4 separate regions of the Homo sapiens genome follow, and all the other regions are reported to be linked to region 2. The links are microRNA targets in miRTarBase. Many come from high-throughput screens and were not tested one by one. Region 2 holds a microRNA gene; each other region holds the end of a gene's coding sequence.
Evidence for each region. Region 2 holds the annotated microRNA hsa-miR-4296 (AUGUGGGCUCAGGCUCA, at 1,879-1,895, shown strand). A microRNA usually pairs through its seed, bases 2 to 8, with sites in the 3' UTR of a target mRNA and lowers its output. Matches are read on the target gene's strand: a 7mer-m8 pairs with bases 2 to 8, a 7mer-A1 pairs with bases 2 to 7 and ends in A, and an 8mer does both.

Region 1 (4,682 bases), not on the chromosome of region 2:
GGGGTCGCCTGACCAGGGACACCTAGCCTGAAGGGGAAGGACCCTCTCTCATCGCGGGCCACTGCCAGGCCTAAGGAAGAGGCAGGTGCAGGGGGAAACTGCCCCAACTTCCCAGGGTAGGAGGAGGTCCAGCCCGTGCGCGCTGCCTCCTCTACCTTCGGGGCCCCCACACCCCTCCCCCGCACTCGCGTGGGCGGGCGGACCGTCCCCCGGTGGTGGGGGCTGGGCGCGTGCGCAGTACGGGGAAAGGTCACGCGTGGGGGTGCGCCCCCCCCGCCCCCGCCCTTTGTCCCGCGGGTGGGAGGGGGAGCGGTCGTGGAACGATTCCAGCGGGAACATGCACTAGGGCGGGGGTGCAAACGCGGCCACCATCCCCCGCCCGCGGGTGCCCGGGGTCCGAGGGGCCGAGGCCCCCCGCGCTCACCCACCCGCTCGCGGAATCCGGCTCGGGGACCGACGGCGGCGGCGCCCATGCCCGGCGCCGGGGAGCGTCTGCAAAGTGTCACGGGGAGCCGAGGGAAGCGCCCACCCACCCGCGAACAGGCGGGGCGGCAGGGGAGCGTGTCGTGGAACTGAGCGACGGAACGGGCAGGGACGCGGGGACTCGCCCAGTCGGGCCAGGCTAGCGCCCCTCGTTGAAGAGTCCCCGGGTCCAGGTGAGGCCCGCCGTTTGCGGCAGAAGCAGAGGGTCTGCACTTGCGCGATAGCCCCTTACAGCACTCCCCCGCCCTCCCCGAAGCTCAGGCAGGGAACATCACGAAATTCCCATCCTGGAGAGCTGGCGAGTCTCCGGGGGTCCCCGGATTGGGTGGCGGTGTGCCCAATGGGCCCAGAAGGCAGGAGAGTGTTTGAGACACCGAGAAAGTTGGAGCGAAAGGAGAATCTACTTTTAACGCTCTCTCAGGAACTAGCCAGCGCGGACCCCTCAGAGCTCCCCTACCTCCTACAGCCAGACCCCAAGGTTCTCAGGGATGTGGGGGCCAAAATCGGGGGAGTTACCCCTCTCCCGGAAAATGAGGGCCAGGAACACGCCACCCCCATCCCCATGTTGGTAATTAAGAGCTGGCTTTGGAGCAAAGCTAGATTCCAGTCCTGACTGTTCCTGCTCCTCCCCAGCCTGTTAACTCACCTGCAAAATGGGGAAATTACAAGCCCTTCTAAATTTATTGTGAGGATGCAGTGATGCGACACACAGAAGCTCAGCCCAGCACCTGGCCATCGTCAGGGCTGAAGAGAGGAGCGCTGCTGGTATTATTTGAGGTCAGATGGTGGGGTATGATGGCAGCCTCTGGGAGGCTCTTTCCCACTCTGGGGAGTATGAACGGAAGATTTGTTCTTCCTCCCAAAAAAACAGGTCGGAAGAGCAAATGAGGCCTAGCACAGTGCCTGGCACAAAATAGGCAAGAAAAATGAATGAATAAGCAGATGTTTATTAAGCTTCAGGCTCAGCTCCACCTGCCTCTCCTGTTCACCAGAAGCATCCAAGCTCTGGACTGTGGCCAGCCCTTATAAGAGCAAGGTCTTAACCCGATGGAGGGAGAATCTAAATGTCTGCACCGCCTGCAAAGCTGTGACCATGATCCTCCCCTCCCCACTTTACAGATTAACTGCAGCCTGGTCCAAAAATTCCAGGGGGAGCCATCTGCCCTAGATTGGTCTTTTCCAAACTACAGGTTCATGGGTGGAGAATTCAATAGAATAGGATGAAATCAGCAGTTTAAAAAAATATTTAGCCGGGCGTGGTGGTGCACACCTGTAATCCCAGCTACTCAGGAGGCTGAGGCAGGAGAATCGCTTAAACCGGGGAGGTGGAGGTTGCAGTGAGCCGAGATCGCACCACGCTCCAGCCTGGGCGACACAGCGAGACTCCGTCTCAAATAGTAATAATAATAGTTGATGGAAAAAAAAATGCACAAACTAAAGCTAACTATGGTAAAGAAATTTTTGTGGGCCGGGCGCAGTGGCTCACGCCTGTAATCCCAACACTTTGGGAGGCAGAGGGGGGCGGATCACGAGGTCAGGAGATCGAGACCATCCTGGCTAACACAGTGAAACCCTGTCTCTACTAAAAATACAAAAAATTAGACAGGCATGGTGGCGGGCGCCTGTAGTCCCACCTACTCAGGAGGCTGAGGCAGGAGAATGGCATGAACTCGGGAGGCGGAGCTTGCAGTGAGCCGAGATTGCGCCACTGCACTCCAGCCTGGGCGACAGAGCAAGACTCCGTCTCAAAAGAAAAAAAAAAAAAAAACTTTTGTTTCGAGGCCTAGTGCCCTGAGGGAGGCCGAGGTGTGTGGATCACCTCAGGTCAGGAGTTCGAGACCAGCCTGACAAACACGGTGAAACCCATCTCTACTAAAGGTACAAAATTAGCTGGGCATGGTGGCACACGCTTGTAACCCCAACTACTTGGGAGGCTGAAGCAGGAGAATCGCTTGAACCCAGGAGGTGAAGGTTGCAGTGAGCTGAGATCACGCCATTACACTCCAGCCTGGGTGACAAGAGCGAAACTCCGTCTAAAAAAAAAGAGGCCAGGCGCTGTGGCTCACACCTGGAATCCCAGCACTTTGGGAGGCCGAGGCAGGTGAATCACCTGAGGTTGGGAGTTCAAGAACAGCCTGACCAACATGGAGAAACCCCGTCTCTACTAAAAATACAAAATTAGCTGGGCATGGTGGCACACGCTTGTAATCCCAGCTACTAGGGAGGCTGAGGCAGGAGAATCGCTTGAACCCAGGAGGCATTGCGGTGATCCGAGATTGTGCCATTGGACTCCAGCCTGGGCAAAAAGAGTGAAACTCCGTCTCAAAAAAAAAAAAAGGAAACTTGGTTCACGTGTATTTTGCTTATCTGTATACTCTATTGCCATATAAAATGTGTTTGTAACAGGAGATTGTGGTTTTAAAATTGTTTCAGTTAAAAACATTCTTCCCAGATGACCCAGGTCTTCAGGAGCTGAGGAGGGGATAACCCCAAGGCAGGCCAACCTTCCCATTCCCCAGCCAGGCAAGCTGAGGTCTCCCTGCTAGACGGCCACCAAAGAGGGTCTGAGATGCTGTCTCTAAAAACAAACCTCGAGTGCTCAGAGTGGGAAACGTGTTTATTGTTTGATCAGTCTCAGGCCTGGTTGGGGGGTGGAAGGCAGGACTGGGGTCCCTTCCCCAACAACAGCGCAGAAGCCCCAGGAAGATGGCGCAGATTCCTGACGACCCACAGCCACCTTTTATGAGGCCAGAGACTTTACACACCACACTCCCCACCTCCATCCAGTCAAGGCTCTGCCATGGAACAGCTGATATCTTTAGGCTAGAGGACTCCATTCTGTGTAGGGGCTCATTCCCATCTCAGCTCCAGAACACGGAGGACCTGAAGATTACTCACGGATTCCTCCTTCAGGCAGGGCTCTGCCTTTGAGATGCGGCTGCTCTGTGTCTGTGTCCAGGGCCCTGAACACCAGCCTCAGGCTCTCACCAGGTGTCTGGACAGGAGTCCAGGCTCCCTGCAAAGTCCTGTGGTACCTGGGGCACCCGGCAGCCCGGCTCATGGATGCTTCCACCGCGTGTGTTTCTGCAGTGTGTTCTGCTCCATAAAGCGGCGAGGGCAGTGTGGACACTGAAACGGGCGTTCCCCAGAGTGCACCCGGCTGTGCTGGGCCAGCTCACCCGCATCCCGGAAGCGGCGAGGGCAGAGCGGGCAGCCGTGGGGCCGCCCACCACCCGCCAGGTGAATGGAATGGTGCCGTGCCAAGTGGCTGGCGCGCTTGAATGCCTTCCCACAGATGTCACACTCGAAGGGCTTTACCTCCGAGTGGGTGATGCTGTGTCGCTGAAGGTAGGACATGTACTCGAAGACCCTTGAGCACACGGGGCAGCTGTAGCACTTTTTCTGGCCTGGAGCCCCACTGGCCCCTGGCTCCCTCTGTGACTCCTCGTCCACCAGCACTGTGTAGGGGACACCCTGAGTGTCAATAAGCAGGTAGTGGTTGGGCCTTGGAGGAGATGAAGCCTGGGGAGATCCGATGGAGGAGGAAGGTCCAGGTTCTGGGGAGCGGCAAGTCCGACGGGGAGGGCCCTCCATGGTCTCAACGGAGGAAAATGCCAGAGGCTGAGGGCAGGGGGATGGCAGCACCAGCATCCGGAGGGCTGGCTGAGGCCTGGTGGATGGGAGATGGGATAAGAAGGTTATATAGAAGAGGGCAGCTCAGCACCACAGGCTCCATCCTTTTCCCTCCCTATACCCGGCCCAGGACCTCTGCATCCTGCTGCCCCTCAGTCCCTCTTTTCCAGTCCCGCTCACAGCTGGAGTCTGTGGCCCCCTAAAAGGTCCCCAGGGTCTTCCTCCTTGGAAAACCTCTCCTAGCCTCGGTGCTCCACCATACACTGTACTCACAGGATCTCTTGACCTCCTCTGCACAACCTGGACCTCGCTCTAACCTTCCTCTTTGTGCCCTCCCAGGTCACTGGGTGCCCCACCCCGCAGGCCTCCAGGCCTCTCCCTCCCCTCCTTCTAGCCCTTTCCAGGGTCTGCGTGTTGGCCTATGCTACATACTCAAGCCTTTCCTGACCCCCTCCATACAAGCCAAGCCTATTCACAGGGGCTCCGACGTTAGGACCCCCAGGTTCCGGCCCTCTCTCCAGCCACGTGTCTGAACAACTCCGTGCTCCCACCCGTCCACCCACCTC
Region 2 (4,682 bases):
TGTACAGATGCATTATAAAATCAGGACTTGTTTTGTTTTTGTTTGTTTTTTTAAAGCACTTTGAGCGCTTCGTAAAGAAACAGAGTTGAAGCCTGCCTATAGGTAGTCCACAAACAGTTCTAATAAATAACTTTAAATAGCCCCAAAATGTGGATTTTAAAAATGGGATTCATAATGTTGCTATACATTATAATTATATGTTGGGATCAGGCAATTATGCACATTTCCAGCAATTATGTGATTAGCTGTAATTACATTAGCTATGTAAATATACAATAGTCAACTAGACATGCCTTAAAACCCCAAAGCACAAATGAACATACCCAAACAATCTTATGCAAAGGTAAAGGTTCAGGAAACAGCCAAGGCAAAGCTTCACAGACAAAAGTGCGGTTCTTTGCAAGGGGTAAAGTTTCATGTTTTGCCTTATCTGTCCCCGGCTTTAAGAGAAACTCAGAGTGGGGGACCCCTCCCCAGGGAACCCCTCACCCCACCTGTTCCTCCACCGACTCTGGGGATGGGGTTCATAGACTGCCCTCCCGTTCTGCAGCTGTGAATCAGGTTCGGTGTTTTATTTCTCTGTTGTTACTCATTTCTCAAGCACAAACATAAGCGTCTCTTTGCACCGGTCAGTTTGGTGATGGGCGGATGTCTTCATACTCACCACTTTTTTCTAATAGCAACATGTTAAGGCCACTTTGCTTTTATTTGGGGGGCCAGGGATGTGTAGTGCAACTGGAGTCTGTGGCTGGGGTTTGGGGGTTCATCACCGTCTTCTAGTTTGGTTCTGCAGCTGCGGTTTTCAGCTCCTGCCCCTACCACAGTGAATCGCGCTGTTTCCCACCGCCTGGTTGGTGGTGCCCTGTCTCCATCGATGATTGAGTTGAAACCTCCCACAGTGTGGCCCGGAGCCCCTGGGCCCAGCTGCCCAGGGCTTTACTCTCAGTGCCTGTCCTCTTGGTCCCGGCACCTTTGGGAAAAGAGCATCTCTAGTTTCAGGCCAAGTCAGTGCCTTGAGGGGAGCAGTGCTTGGGGTGGGCAGGGGGAAGGAGTGCCGCGGGGGGAACAGTGCATCCGTAGTCTCCGTGTTTGGAGGAGGCCCCAGGGTAGCCAGACAGCAGCAGACAGCAGCCCGCACGAATGCGGAGAACCTTCTGCGCGCTTCACACAGCTCAACCTAATTGACAGGTATTTGGGGTGACTGTGAACCAGAACCCCAAGATACATTTTGCTGCCGGCTTCTTGCCCTCTCTCCTTTTCCAGAACGTACAGTGTTAAAGCTGTGAAATGAGACTCCTCTCTGATTGGTTTCTACCACTTGGCTCGCTTGCTACTAAAGCTCAGGCACCTTGGCGTGCGCGCTCGAGGGCGTTCCTCTGTCTCTGTCTCATCTCCATCTACAGAGTGACCTCACGTGCCTTTCTCAGCCCTTCCACATCCAGCAGGAGCCTGGCTGAGCACCCCAGCTGGGCTGTGAAGATGCCGAGAGGGGAGAGCATTCTGGGTGTCCAGCGCTGGGGCACAGTGGGATCCCACACTCCCTGTCCCTCCAGCCTGTTTCTCATCACCTGAGGGTTTTGTTTTCCGTGTTCCGGTTGAAGAGATGTCTGTGCCAGGAGGGTTCCTCCCTTCCCATTTGCAACCTGGGATGGGTGACGCAGATTTATCCGAGACTTGGGAGTGAGGCTGAGAGTCAGTTCTTTCGTATCCTAAGAAAGGCTGACCGTCCCATCAAGGCCCGTGTGCTGAAACTGTCCGTGTGCAGGCTCAGGTGGAGCAGGTCTCTGTCAGGCAGCCATTTGTATTTGGGCGGTGGGTGCTTTGCCTAGCTTAGTGCCTACCATGCCCAGGCTTGCAAATGGGGCTGTTTGGGCTTTGATGTGGGCTCAGGCTCAGAGGGCTGAAGTGGTTGTGGGGAGGGGCTTCTGGGGACTGTGTCCATGTCTCTGTCGTTTTTCCCCATCACACCGTACACTCCCTTGAGGCCAGCCGTCCATCACCATTGAGTCATAGTCGACAGTTTGATTTACAGCCCGGGTGTCAAACAAAATGAAAAGCACGTGATGAATGGAGGGAGCACGTGCTGTGGAGGGAGGGGTGCGCTCCGCTCCGCAGGTCAGGGGCTAAGCGGCCATGCCTTGGCCTGTCTCTACAGGCACATGCATGCCCTGGACTATTTTTGGGGTGCCTTTCTCATCTTGAGGAGTGGCAGGTTTTTTGGACTAAGGACAAAGTGACAGAATTGGACTGAGAAAGGTTCATGGGGGAGGGCTCGCTGAGCCAGCCCTGATTAGGAGCATTGCTCACAAAACCAGAGGAAGGACGGCATCCTGGGACCTTCTGATCGCAGGACAGCCGAGGAGACCTCAAACAGTGGAGTGTGATGGGGCGGGTCACCATGGAGGTGAGGTGGAGACTTTGGGAATCTGCAGGAAAAGCTGCTAAAGAGCAGAAGGGGTGGTGTTCATTGAGCACCTACTGTGCGGAGCGTCTTGTGCCGGGTGCTGTCCAGAGCTGAGCACAGCCTCTTGAGGTTGAGTGTGTTCCATTGCTAGAAATGGGAATCCTGACATGGTCCAAGGTGAGGCCTGTCCTGCATCCCAGCTGGGGTCCCGTTGCACACTTTGGCTCCACCAACACTTTCAAAATGGGCAGTGCAAGAGAATGGGCTTGTTTTTTTTTTTCTTTTGAAACCCCATAATGAGTGGTCTAATTTTCATAATGCAGTTCCCAGGAAGCTTTACAATATAGTTAAGAAATTGAGTCAGAAGCAATGTGCAGGCCTTTGTTTTCACTTACCATGGCTAAATACTGAGAGACATGAGGACTGGGGCTTCTTAGGATGCAGCTAATCTGAAAAAGGCTGGGTTGGTTCAGACACTCGACGTCACTCTCCTGACTTCCTTTGGCGCGTTGCGTGGGTGCCCAAGCCTCCGCGCTCCAGGCCCAGAAATTGGTGAGAGCACTCAGTGTGCAAGCAAGGGTGCACGGTGCACTCAGCCCCTTTGATACCTGAAACGATGTCTGGGCAGTTTTGCTAATTGTTGCTGTGTGCTTGCGTGATTTAGACGAAGGCTGCTTTAAAACCCAGCCAGACTTTGTGTTTGCTATGTAACCAGTGCATTTGGTGTGGCCTCCCACCCTTTGCGTTAGATTAGCCAACTTGGCTACTTTGGGTTGAGGACGTTCGGGGGCAGGGGGTAGGGGGTTGATGAGAGGAAAGACTTTTTTTTTTTTTTTTTTTTTTTTTGAAATGGAGTCTTGCTCTGTTGCCCAGGCTGGAATGCAATGGTTCTGTCTCGGCTCACTGCAACCTGCACCTCCCGGGTTCACGCCATTCTCCTGCCTCAGCCTCCCGAGTAGCTGGGATTACAGGCACCCGCCACCACGCCCGGCTAATTTTTGTATTTTTAGTAGAGACAGGGTTTCGCCATGTTGGCCAGGATGGTCTCCATCTCCTGACATCAGGTGATCCGCCCCACTCAGTCTCCCAAAGTGCTGGGATTACAGGCATGAGCCACGGCACCCGGCCCAAGAAAACTTTTTTAATGGCACAAATTCCACAACACTTAACTTGACAGAAGCAGACAAAAATCCAGCACAGGCTGTCCACATTTAAAAGCAGGAAATGGGTATGCCATAGGCCGATTTTTCTGCCCTGTGTCTGCCAGAAAACCGTGTTACCCGCTAACTTCTGCAGCCTCCCTAGGGAAGCGCTCGCTGTGGGAGACGTAGAGGGCACTGTGGTGGCTCCGTCCTGGGATGCAGCAGGCGCTGAAGAGCCTCCTGAGATGTTATTTCCGCTATCACCTTCAGAGCTGCCCTGGCCCTTTGTGTTGGTGGAGGCAGGATCAGGGAATGGAAGCCCAGGCAGGTGCAGGACCCCCCTGGGGAAGCTGTTCCTTAAGTTCCTTCAGTTGGGAACTTAAGTTGCCTCCTGAGAATGAGCTATTCCCTGAGAAGGCCTTGAGACAAACCTGGCAGCCCACCAAGTGGGCGGGTGACAACACAGTTAAGAGGGACACACCATTGAGCCAAATGGCCCTCATGTTACTGCAACCTTCAGACTCACTGATCCCACCTGTTCTTCTTTTTCTATAAAAGTGAGAATTAGACCCCAGAGTCATGTTTTCTCTCTCATTTCAAGCAGTTTCCTGCATGATTATTCCAATGGGAACATGAAATGCTTGTTGGCAGTTTGTCCAAAGACTGCTCCGTCGGAGGGTACCCACTGATCATCCCCATCCTGGCCTCTCTTCCCAGCTCTTCTGGAACTGTCTGGATCCATCTCTGGAATTGTCTGGATCTCTGTAGGTCTCTGTTGTTAATTGACACCTTGTGTCGCACAGGGACTTCAGAATTGGCTTTGGGTGGACATCGCCTCTCTCCCCGACACAGCTATGTTACACAATCATCTTATTTTTACTTGACATAATTTCTATAGTGAGGGTTTTGGCAGAATTAAAAAATTAAGCCCGTGAGATGTATTACTCTAATGGGTCCCATCTCACTTTTAGTCAACATGAGAATTTTTAAGAAAAGCAGTCCTTTCTAAAAGACTGGAGTGTGGTGTGTGTGTGTGTGTGTGTGTGGTGTTTGTGTAACCAGAGTGTTTGGAAAAGTGAGTCCAGTTACAGGTGTTTTTACCTAGCGCAGGAAAACATCTGTCATAATATTTGTCA
Region 3 (4,682 bases), not on the chromosome of region 2:
TTAATAATATACCATATACCCAGGTTCTAGGCACCCAGAATTAATGACTGTTAACATTTTCTCCCAAGGTATTTTGAGAACCCTTTTTTCTTTAGAATGACTCATGCGTCATAAGACACAGGCTTAATCTACCATCGTTTAATCGCCAGATTACCAAATTAGAATATTGAACTAGGACAGGAAAGATAAAATATTCTTATTTTATTTTTTAAAATATGGTACTTAAGTGGACCACGTGATGAGTTTTGACAAATGCCTATCATTACTTTTCTTTTTTTTTCTCACTTTTTTTAAAAGCAACAAGTCAAGGAATATACTCATCATGTTTTAAATTGCATTTGCAATTGGAACTGCATAAAAAGGCATTTTAATTTACATAATCTTTTTCTGCTGTTTTCACTTCCTGTTAAAACGGAATAACCTGGGGATTTTTATTTTCTGGTAGAAAATGCACAGTTTCAAGAAAGTCAAGAGTAAAGGTTAAGTTTACAGATTTCCAGTGACAGAGATGAAAGGGAACTACGTAACTCTGGAAAATAAAAGTTCAGAGTTGCGTTGCTTACAACTTTTTCATTTGTTAAGTTCTAGGAGCAAGTTTGAATGGGGAATCAAGAAGCCTGAATTATAGAACCAGTGCTGCCAGTAATGCACTGTGTGGCTGCTGGCCCATCACTTTACCTTTTTGGGCTAAAACTCTTTTTGTGCTTTTGGAATAACTTGTGTCCACTTTCTCCTTCTTTATGTCTTTTGTTTATAGGTTTGCGTTTTATGCACTGTTAACCAATCAGTCCTGATTCCTCTACCACACGTAGTAAGAGGGTAAGCCGTGGACATGAAGTGATGCTGCCAAGCTTGGCTAGTGTATGCACACTGCACCTTGCATGGGTGCCGTGAGGGCCCTGGAGGCCATATCTGGACTGGCTCTGGTCCTGAGGGTCAGAGTTCATCTGCTCCTGGATCCTAGTTTCACCTTCATAGGTTCCTCTGTATATGGACTTGAAATGTGACTTTCTTAGTGATAAGAGTTGTGGTTTTTATTCATTCACCACAGATGTTGTAAACCCCTACTTTTGTGTAGGGCACCGTTTTTCACTTTTACAGAAGAGGTTACTTTAGCAATTCTTTAAATGTCAGAGCCCTGTGCTGGCTAAAAACTCAACGCTGTATCTCACTTAAAAAACAAAATCAACTCCAAAGCCATCACCTCCATTTGGTAGTATGCTAATGAAATTGGGACACTGAGGGCTGGGTGTGGTGGCTCATGCCTTAATCCCAGCACTTTGGGAGGCCGAGGCAAGTGGATCACTTGAGGTCAGGAGTTCGAGACCAGTCTGGCCTCATCTCTACTAAAAATACAAAGATTAGCTGGGTGTGGTGGCATAGGCCTCTAGTCCCACTTACTTGGGAGGCTGAGGCAGGAGAATTGTTTGAACCTAGAGGCAGAGATTGCAGTGAGTGCCATTGCACTCCAGCCTCTGTCTCAAAAAAAAAAAAAAAAAAAAAGAAAGAAATTGGGACACTGAGGTAAGCAGCCTTCAATCCTTGCTGAGCATTTGGCCCTAATCCTCTAAATTCTTTTGAGAGTTTAGGGTTGGGACTGAGGGAGTGGGTCAGCTTGGATCAACGCCAGCACTCTGGATGTCAGCAGTGGCCAAGCGTCTTCCTTCTGACTCTGTAAAGCTGGAGCAATCCTCTTATTGCACAGGTACTGGCACTGTCAGATAGAAACGACAGCCCTGGGAGGAGACCTGCAGCACTGACAGTCAGTGGTTCAGACACATGAGCCCGGACCCCAGTGCTGTCATGGACCCGTGCCATGACCTTGGCCCAATGACTGTTTCCACAGTGGAAACAAACAGTGAAAGTTCCAACCCCAGATGTAGTGACGAAGGTTCATTGCACTTGCACACAGTAGATGCTCAATAAATACCCATTACTCAATTAGGGAAATGAAGCACAATATCCATTTTTGGAAAATATTTATTAAAAAACTAGTGAATGTGGCAGAAAAACAAAACCAACACACAGCTTTAAATAGCAAGCATATGACACACCGGTTATAAAGCTTTTCCAACTCTACTGATTTAGTCTTTCACACCAGCTACTGTTGAGGAGGGCTTCCGAGGGAAGCCACGTGTAAACGGGTCATCTGTACTAGTGGTGAGCAAAACTAATTACATGAGAACTATCAATGGCCATATGACTTGCTTTCCTAGGCAATCCACCCAAAACATAGGTGAGTGGCCAAATCTCAGGCGTGCGTTCATGTGGATCTATAGTTCTAGTTTTAATTTGAGGGTTGGGGGAAGTTAGGGGATGAAACAGTAGAAAGACAAACAGTATCGGCAGAGGGCAACCTTAAAGCACCTTTAAAATCTGGACCCTTTCCCACAATTTAACCCAGTAATTCTCAAACATTACTGTTGAAAAGAATCACCTGATGAGACTGTTAAATTGGCAGGCTCCCTAAATCTGCAATTTTAAGATAAGCACTCCGGGTGATTCAGTGTCTATTAGCCAGCCATCCAATTTCAGAAACACTGTTTAAAATGCATTAAAACAATTCCTACCTCCCACAAACAAAAGTAAAGGAATCTGCTGACAGTCACTGTGCTTTTGTCAATGTCAAGGGACCAATATGGGAAGGCAGGCAGGAAGGGGCCTCCCATTCCTAACACACTGATCTATAGAAGCCCTGTGCAACAGCCTGTCAAGTGTTGTTTAGGGAGTAAATACAATTCAATAAGAGTTGTTTTAGATCACAGAACAGCATCCAAATCACCAACAGGCCAACCCCATTCATCCCAGGTTAATGAACTTTGTTGGGTCGAAGCCAGATGGGACACTGCTGTTCAAACAAAACACGGGTAATTGTGGGTCCTGACTTGTGAAGACATATGGAATAAAACATCTATAAAAACCTTTATTAAACATAGAGCACTATGCCCAAATAATTTTGAAGGTTTACGAAAGTCACATCATGGACAACATGTAGAAATAGTAACATTGATTCCAAGGTTCCCATTATCTGCAAAAAGATGTGCTATGGCTGTGTCGAAAACAAGGCAGTCGCTGTTCATGATGGCCGCAGCCACACCGTCATGAATCGAACGGGGCGTGGCCTCCCAGGTCAATCTCCGCCGGTTCCCATTCAACTCCAGTCTGTAGGCAAAGTTCTCGGCTTGCTTGCGGGTGCCAATGAGCAGGACGATGGCAAAAAACTGCTGGTGGCCTTCGTACTTCTCTTGTTTCTCCAGCACCAGCATGAAGTGATGGCCAAAACATGACTGCATCATCACCCAGTCGACAGCCCCTGGCAAGTTAATGTCTGTAGCTAGAAAGACGATGTCTTCTCCCTGAAGGGTGGTAATGCTCTTGTGGGCGTGCATGAGATGGGACATCACAGCTTCCAGGGACCCCTGCCACTTGCAGGAAGCACCAGGACATGGGCAGGAGTAGGGACGGTATTCACATATGTCTTCATGTTCTGGTTTCTCCGTATGGTGCAGGGTCAGGGAACAGCCCGTGGTGGCATACTGCAAAGAAAGAAATGCATTGAGCCATTGGGCCTTCTCAAAACTTCTATTGCTTCAACCCTCTATGAGTACTTAACTACTCCATTTTCCTGGGCTTAAACTGTGTTCTTAACTACTTTTGCTCAAAGCAAGTGAAATATTCAAGACTAAAAGTCTCCGTCTCTATTCATCATCAATGCTGTCATGCATAAAATGAAGGGTATTTCCTGAACCAGAAATACGCTGTTTTCCATGCCCCCTGTTCCGCTGTCAAAGGGATCAGAACTAAAGTTCTCTTACTGTGCACATCTCAAAATTGTTGAGCAAGCCCTATAAAAGCTGGTCTTCCCCATATTTTCTGTGAAGCTGTTTTTTAAAGAATTCAATTGCTTGGGTGGTGGGGATGGGGTTGGGCAAGGAATATTATATTATCCCAAGATTAGTTTTCACATATAGACAATATTAACAACAGTATAATTCTGTCGTCCCCCTCCACTGCTTTCTGGCTCAAACTGGTGACTGGCAGGCAGGCCGTGGGGAAGGCTGCCCTTTGGTTCCTTGCTCTTTGCTGCTGGCATCACCAGGCTAGGGCAGCGGAGGCCTGGAGACCCCTTCATACAGCTAGAAATATTACCCCACTGCATCCTTTTGACCTTCCCTCTGGGGGGCTTTGCCCATATTTTTTGGGTGGAAGGAAATCACATCCAAGAGCTACTTAACTAACTCAGAAGACTACTGGTCAGTCTGGTTCTGGCCAGTAGAGGTTAACATGAGAAGGGCCTAACCCTCCTCTCAAAGCTTGCTGACCCCCAACACTTCCTCAGATTCAAGAGCACATCATTTCATGGTCAGGTATGTCAGGTCCTCACAACAGGCCCGGGAGGAAGCAGAACTAGACAAGTTTGCTGACATGATCAGTCTGCCCCTCAGACACTGCCTTAATAGGGTAGGAGAACAAAATCATTTTCTCCCTTGCACTTGGGATGACATTCCTAATGGATAAATCATACCTGCCGTGGCAAAAGACCACACCAAGAGGAACTGAACTTCTACTCCAGACTCTCACAAGGATGACAGTGTTAATTCCTAGATACCAGATGGAGATCAGCCCACAAGTAGACACCTGCCCTGAGTACTAAGCTGTTCTGTAAAGAATTAAGAAACCTG
Region 4 (4,546 bases), not on the chromosome of region 2:
TGCAGATCCTGGCTCTACCACTCATTAGCTCTGTAGTCTTGGGCAAGTTATTTAACCTTACTTTGCCGCAGTTTCCTGAAAACAATCAGAATGCACCTGACACACAGAAGCCCTCAATATGTGAGTTACCACTGATTGGGTATAAAGGCCAGAATCTGCTCCAGTGGAACTGGGAGAGTTATTGGGGTACCCCCAACAAATGCACTTTTCCCCCTCCCAAACAGCTAAGAAGCTTCCCAAGAACGAGCCCCAGAATGCAACTGGTGCTCCAGGCCGAAACCGAGGTGTGGACCTCCAGGAGAACAACCCAGCCAGCCGGAGCCAGTGCTGCAGCAACTGAGCCCCCCTTGCCTGCCCGCTGCCCCCGCCTCCTCCGCCTGAATGACCCGACTGGAATCCACTCTAACCAATCGCACTTAACGACTCGGGCCACCACTGGGGGGGCAGGGGGAGGGGTCCACCATGATTTCTCCATATAATTTTGATCATAGGCCGGAGTGAGTCATTCCACCTGCACCTTTCTGTACAAATACTAATTCAATTTTAAGTCTTAAGTCACTTTTTTAATATATATGATCTTCTGCTCTTCCCACTTCCTCCCCTTTCTACTGCTCTCCCATTTTCCCTTGCTGGGAGTAGCCACATGCTCTTGCCCCCCAACCCTTGTATATGGGGACAGTGGGGTCAGTGCAGCTACCCTTTCTTTCCCTCCTGCGGAACAGCGGACCCAGCAAGAGCATCCACATCCTCACTTTGTTCGGAGTGGTCTTTGGTTTGGGCGGTGGGGCAGACCTTGGGAAGGGGCTTAGGAAGGGAGAGGCAGCTCTTCCTTCAGCTGGCTCTCATCAGGCTGCAGCCCCCTCCCCGCTCCCACCTCCCTGCTGGGAAACCACAGCATTATCACAGCATTATTGTGACAGCCACGAACCCATTGCCCACAACCCCTCCACCCTCGGTCACCCCAACCTCTGGCTCTGAGCCCTGTTCTGACCAAATCATGATGATGAGTATTTGGGGGTGGGTGGGTAAGGGGGGGAGTGGGAGGGGACGGAACCAACTTTTTCTGTATTTTGTATTGTATGTTTTCTTCAACATGTAACCAATCAGTATCTTGTCAATATAGTCAGCCGATCGATCGACCTCACAATTGTCTTCCTTGTCTTTCTCTGGCAGTTTATCAGACAGTGCCCTCTGTAGTTGAAGTTGATTTAAAATGAACCACTGAATCTTGTTAAACAAAATCTTCCCCTCTAATGTGAGGGGATGCTGGTGGTCATGGTAACCAAGAGAAAGAGGCTCTTACTGTTAGCAGCTCCGATGAGGTAGCTGACCTGGGCTGACCAAGTTTGAAGTTTCAGGGCCCGTGTTCACTTCTCCACCTCCCTTCCCCTCCCCCACCTACCAGATCATACTGGGGTGACATGCAGTGTGTATTTGATGATCATTAGTCTCTGAAACACCAGAAACAACCTCTTTGGGTTTTTTTTGGTTGGTCTTTACCAGTGAGAGGGTCTGGATCCTCTCTCTTCCTGAAGAGGAAGGAATCCCAACAGCCCCTGGAACGCTGGACTGGTCTTAAGGCCAAGACTGTAGCCACTGGCTTTCCTCACCACCTCTGTCCACGTCACCCCCCCACACCACATCCAAGTTGCCCCAGTCCAGCTCTCTACTGGTTCTGGAATCAGGTCTGGGCACTCAGCTCTCTGCTGCTACCTGTTGGAGCTGCTGCTCAGCTAGGGCCACACTCTCCTCCAATTTCTCCCAGGGCCACAGAGGCCTGATTCCCTTTTTTTTTTTTTTTCTTTTTTTGAGACGGAGTCTCTGTTACCCAGGCTGGAGTGCAGTGGTGCTATCTCAACTCACTGCAGCCTCCACCTCCTGGGTTCAAGCGATTCTTCTGCCTTAGCCTCCCAAGTAGCTGGAATTACGGGCACCCGCCACCACGCCCTGCTAATTTTTGTATTTTTAGTAGAGACAGGGTTTCACCATGTTGGCCAGGCTTGTCTCAAACTCCTGGCCTCAAGTGATCCACCCGCCTCAGCCTCCCAAAGTGCTGGGATTACAGGCGTGAGCTACCACAGTCGGCTTTTTTTTTTTTTTTTTTTTTTTTTTTTTGAAACGGAGTCTCACTCTATTGCCCAGGCTGGAGTGCAGTGGCACGATCTCGGCTCACTGCAAGCTCTGCCTCCCGGGTTCACGCCATTCTCCTGCCTCAGCCTCCCGAGTAGCTGGGACTACGGGCGCCCACCACCACGCCCGGCTAATTTTTTTGTATTTTTAGTAGAGACGGGGTTTTACCGTGTTAGCCAGGATGGTCTCGATCTCCTGACCTTGTGATTCGCCCGCCTCGGCCTCCCAAAGTGCTGGGATTACAGGCGTGAGCCACCGCGCCCAGCATTTTTTTTTTTTTTTTTTTTTTTTTTTTTTGAGACAGAGTCTCACTCTGTGGCCCAGGCTGGAGTGCAGTGGCAGGATCTTGGCTCACTGCAACCTCCCTCCACCTCCCAGGTTCAAACGATTCTCTTGCTCAGCCTCCCGAGCAGCTGGGATTACAAGCACACACCACCACGCCTAATTTTTGTGTTTTTAGTAGAGATGGGGTTTCACCATGTTGGCCAGGCTGGTCTCGAACTCCTGGCCTCAAGTGATCTGCCCGCAGAGGCCTGATTCTTGGTGGACCACCACCTTGAGGGTGCCTTTCCTGCCTCCTGTGCCTCCAGTCCCTCTACCTCTGACTTCCATCCCCAGAAAAGACAACGGACACCAAGGCTGCTGCACATCGCGTCGTTTGTTTACCGGGTCAGGTTGGAAGCCTTAGAGCCGAGGCTCCCGAGTCTCGGGGACGGTCCTGTTTGGGCTTCAGGGAGGGCCAGCGCCACACACTGGCCTCTGACCCACAGCTGCCCGGAGGGGGTCAGGCAGCAGGTCATGGCGGTAGGACTCAGGTTGGACGGGAGCATTTTCCGGTGCACCTTCTGTGACATGCGGTAACTGACCCTTTCCGGGTCCCTGACGTCCAGTTGCTGCTGTCCGGTCACCATCAGCCATTGGCCATCCACCTGCACCACCAGTTCCTCCGGGGCGAAGCCGTGGGCATCCAGCTTCATTTGGAAACCGTCTCTGGCATGGTCATTGTCCTCCTGAGCCGCTGGACTGTCCCTGAGCAGCCGCACCGGCATTGTGGCCACCCGGTTCCGTTCAGCAAGGCCCACGCTGGGACACCGGGATGCCACCCGGCTCTCGTTGGAGAAGGTGTTACCGACTCTCTGCATCCGAGTCAGCAACTAACTGCTGTCAAAGGGCGCGAGGCTCCCAGCGCAGAGCTAGGCGCACGGACGCCCGGAGAGGAGGGACCTCGCGCGGCCTACCCGAGCTCAGCTCCGCTCGCTCGGTTCCCTTCGCTTCTGCAAACGCAGGCGGAGTTCGGGATCAGCCACGCCCATCTTACCTCCAAGAGCCAGACTGTCAGCGCCCTGGCGCGCCCGCAGCTGCTCTCCTCCCAGACTCCGACCCTTTCTCCGCCCTTCCCCACCTTCGTTAATGGACCCGGGGAGGCCGCAGCTGTGAAGGAACTGGATCCACGACCAGGCCAGACCCGAGGGAGCCGCACCCTGGCGCAGCCAACAGCAGATTGATCCCCCAGCTGGAAGGGGGCTGTCTTGCCTTCTAAGGACCAGGCCTGGGGCAAGGATTGTTCCTAGACAGAGCCAGGGGAGGGCGGCCTTCCTGGGTCATCCACCCTACCTCTCCCTGACCACCCACAACCCCACGCGGACACGCGACACGAGGAGGTGGACTGGTCTCTCCGGCTGCATTAATTCTTCCCGGGGCGTCCTGTGCTGCAGGCTGTGGTCTGGGCTCTGGGGCCACAAAGATGAAGACGCAGTTGGGGCTTCAGGAGAGTGGCTCCCAGTGCACAGAGAAAGACCTAGCCCTCCTCCGCCTCACCCTCCACGTCAGTAGCCTTCTTGGTGACCATCATAACCACAGCTATGCCTCTGGTGCTGTTATTTGATAATTTTTTTTTTTTAAGAGACAGGGTATCATTATGTTGCCCAGGTTAATCTCGAACTCCTGGGCTCAAGCGATCCTCCCATCTCGGCCTCCCAAAGTGCTGAGATTACAGGCGTGAGCCACCTCGCCCAGCCTATAAACTTTATTTTTTATTTTTTTGTAGAGATTGGTGGGGGGGGTCTCCCAATGTTGCCCAGCCTGGTCTCGAACTCCTGCAGGGCTCAAGCTCTCCTCCCGCGTGAGCCAGCCACCCGGCCTGATAAACTCCTTTTTGTTGAGTGATACTATTAAATACATACATACTGAAAAGCGCAGAAAAAGGTGCAGGTGAATGTCAGGAGGAGAACACACCCAAGTCACCACCACACTACTGCAGAACTGTTGCTACATCTCATCTCTACCGCAGCTGCAATTCCGTGTCCGGAGCCGCGTGGGGCAGGGCCTGTGCGGGAGTTGGGGGAGGGGGTTAAGTGGGAGACAGGCGCGTGAAAGAGGCAGACCCCACGATTCTCCCCAAGACTCCTTGTCCCCA

Region 1: the mRNA of ZNF581 is a reported target of hsa-miR-4296. The part of its 3' UTR that is shown has no 7-base or 8-base seed match.
Region 3: miRTarBase lists SIAH2 as a target of hsa-miR-4296. Seed matches in the 3' UTR shown: 7mer-A1 at 2,872-2,878.
Region 4: miRTarBase lists RAB5C as a target of hsa-miR-4296. Seed matches in the 3' UTR shown: 8mer at 934-941.

Annotation. Positions count from the first base shown.
Region 1 is chr19:55,644,024-55,648,705 of GRCh38, reverse strand. ZNF581 (zinc finger protein 581) reads right to left here. Exons shown (of 2, transcript NM_016535.4): 2 at 3,083-4,153. The coding sequence starts at 4,134. The coding sequence ends at 3,541. CCDC106 (coiled-coil domain containing 106) reads right to left here and starts at 494. Exons shown (of 5, transcript NM_001370470.1): 1 at 1-494. RefSeq lists silencers at 139-268, 299-418, 3,655-3,764 and enhancers at 3,365-3,414, 3,425-3,474, 3,158-4,123.
Region 2 is chr10:125,030,057-125,034,738 of GRCh38, reverse strand. MIR4296 (microRNA 4296) reads left to right here and starts at 1,869; the gene lies at 1,869-1,956. All of the region lies in intron 3 of CTBP2 (C-terminal binding protein 2), which reads left to right.
Region 3 is chr3:150,739,163-150,743,844 of GRCh38, forward strand. SIAH2 (siah E3 ubiquitin protein ligase 2) reads right to left here. Exons shown (of 2, transcript NM_005067.7): 2 at 1,963-3,536. The coding sequence ends at 2,979. Among named protein-coding and RNA genes, the nearest start is that of SIAH2-AS1, 20 kb to the right of the region's middle. RefSeq lists a silencer at 1,705-1,784.
Region 4 is chr17:42,121,577-42,126,122 of GRCh38, reverse strand. It overlaps RAB5C (RAB5C, member RAS oncogene family), which reads left to right. Exons shown (of 6, transcript NM_004583.4): 6 at 225-1,144. The coding sequence ends at 340. HSPB9 (heat shock protein family B (small) member 9) reads right to left here and starts at 3,319. Exons shown (of 1, transcript NM_033194.3): 1 at 2,771-3,319. The coding sequence starts at 3,272. The coding sequence ends at 2,793. RefSeq lists an enhancer at 2,467-3,004.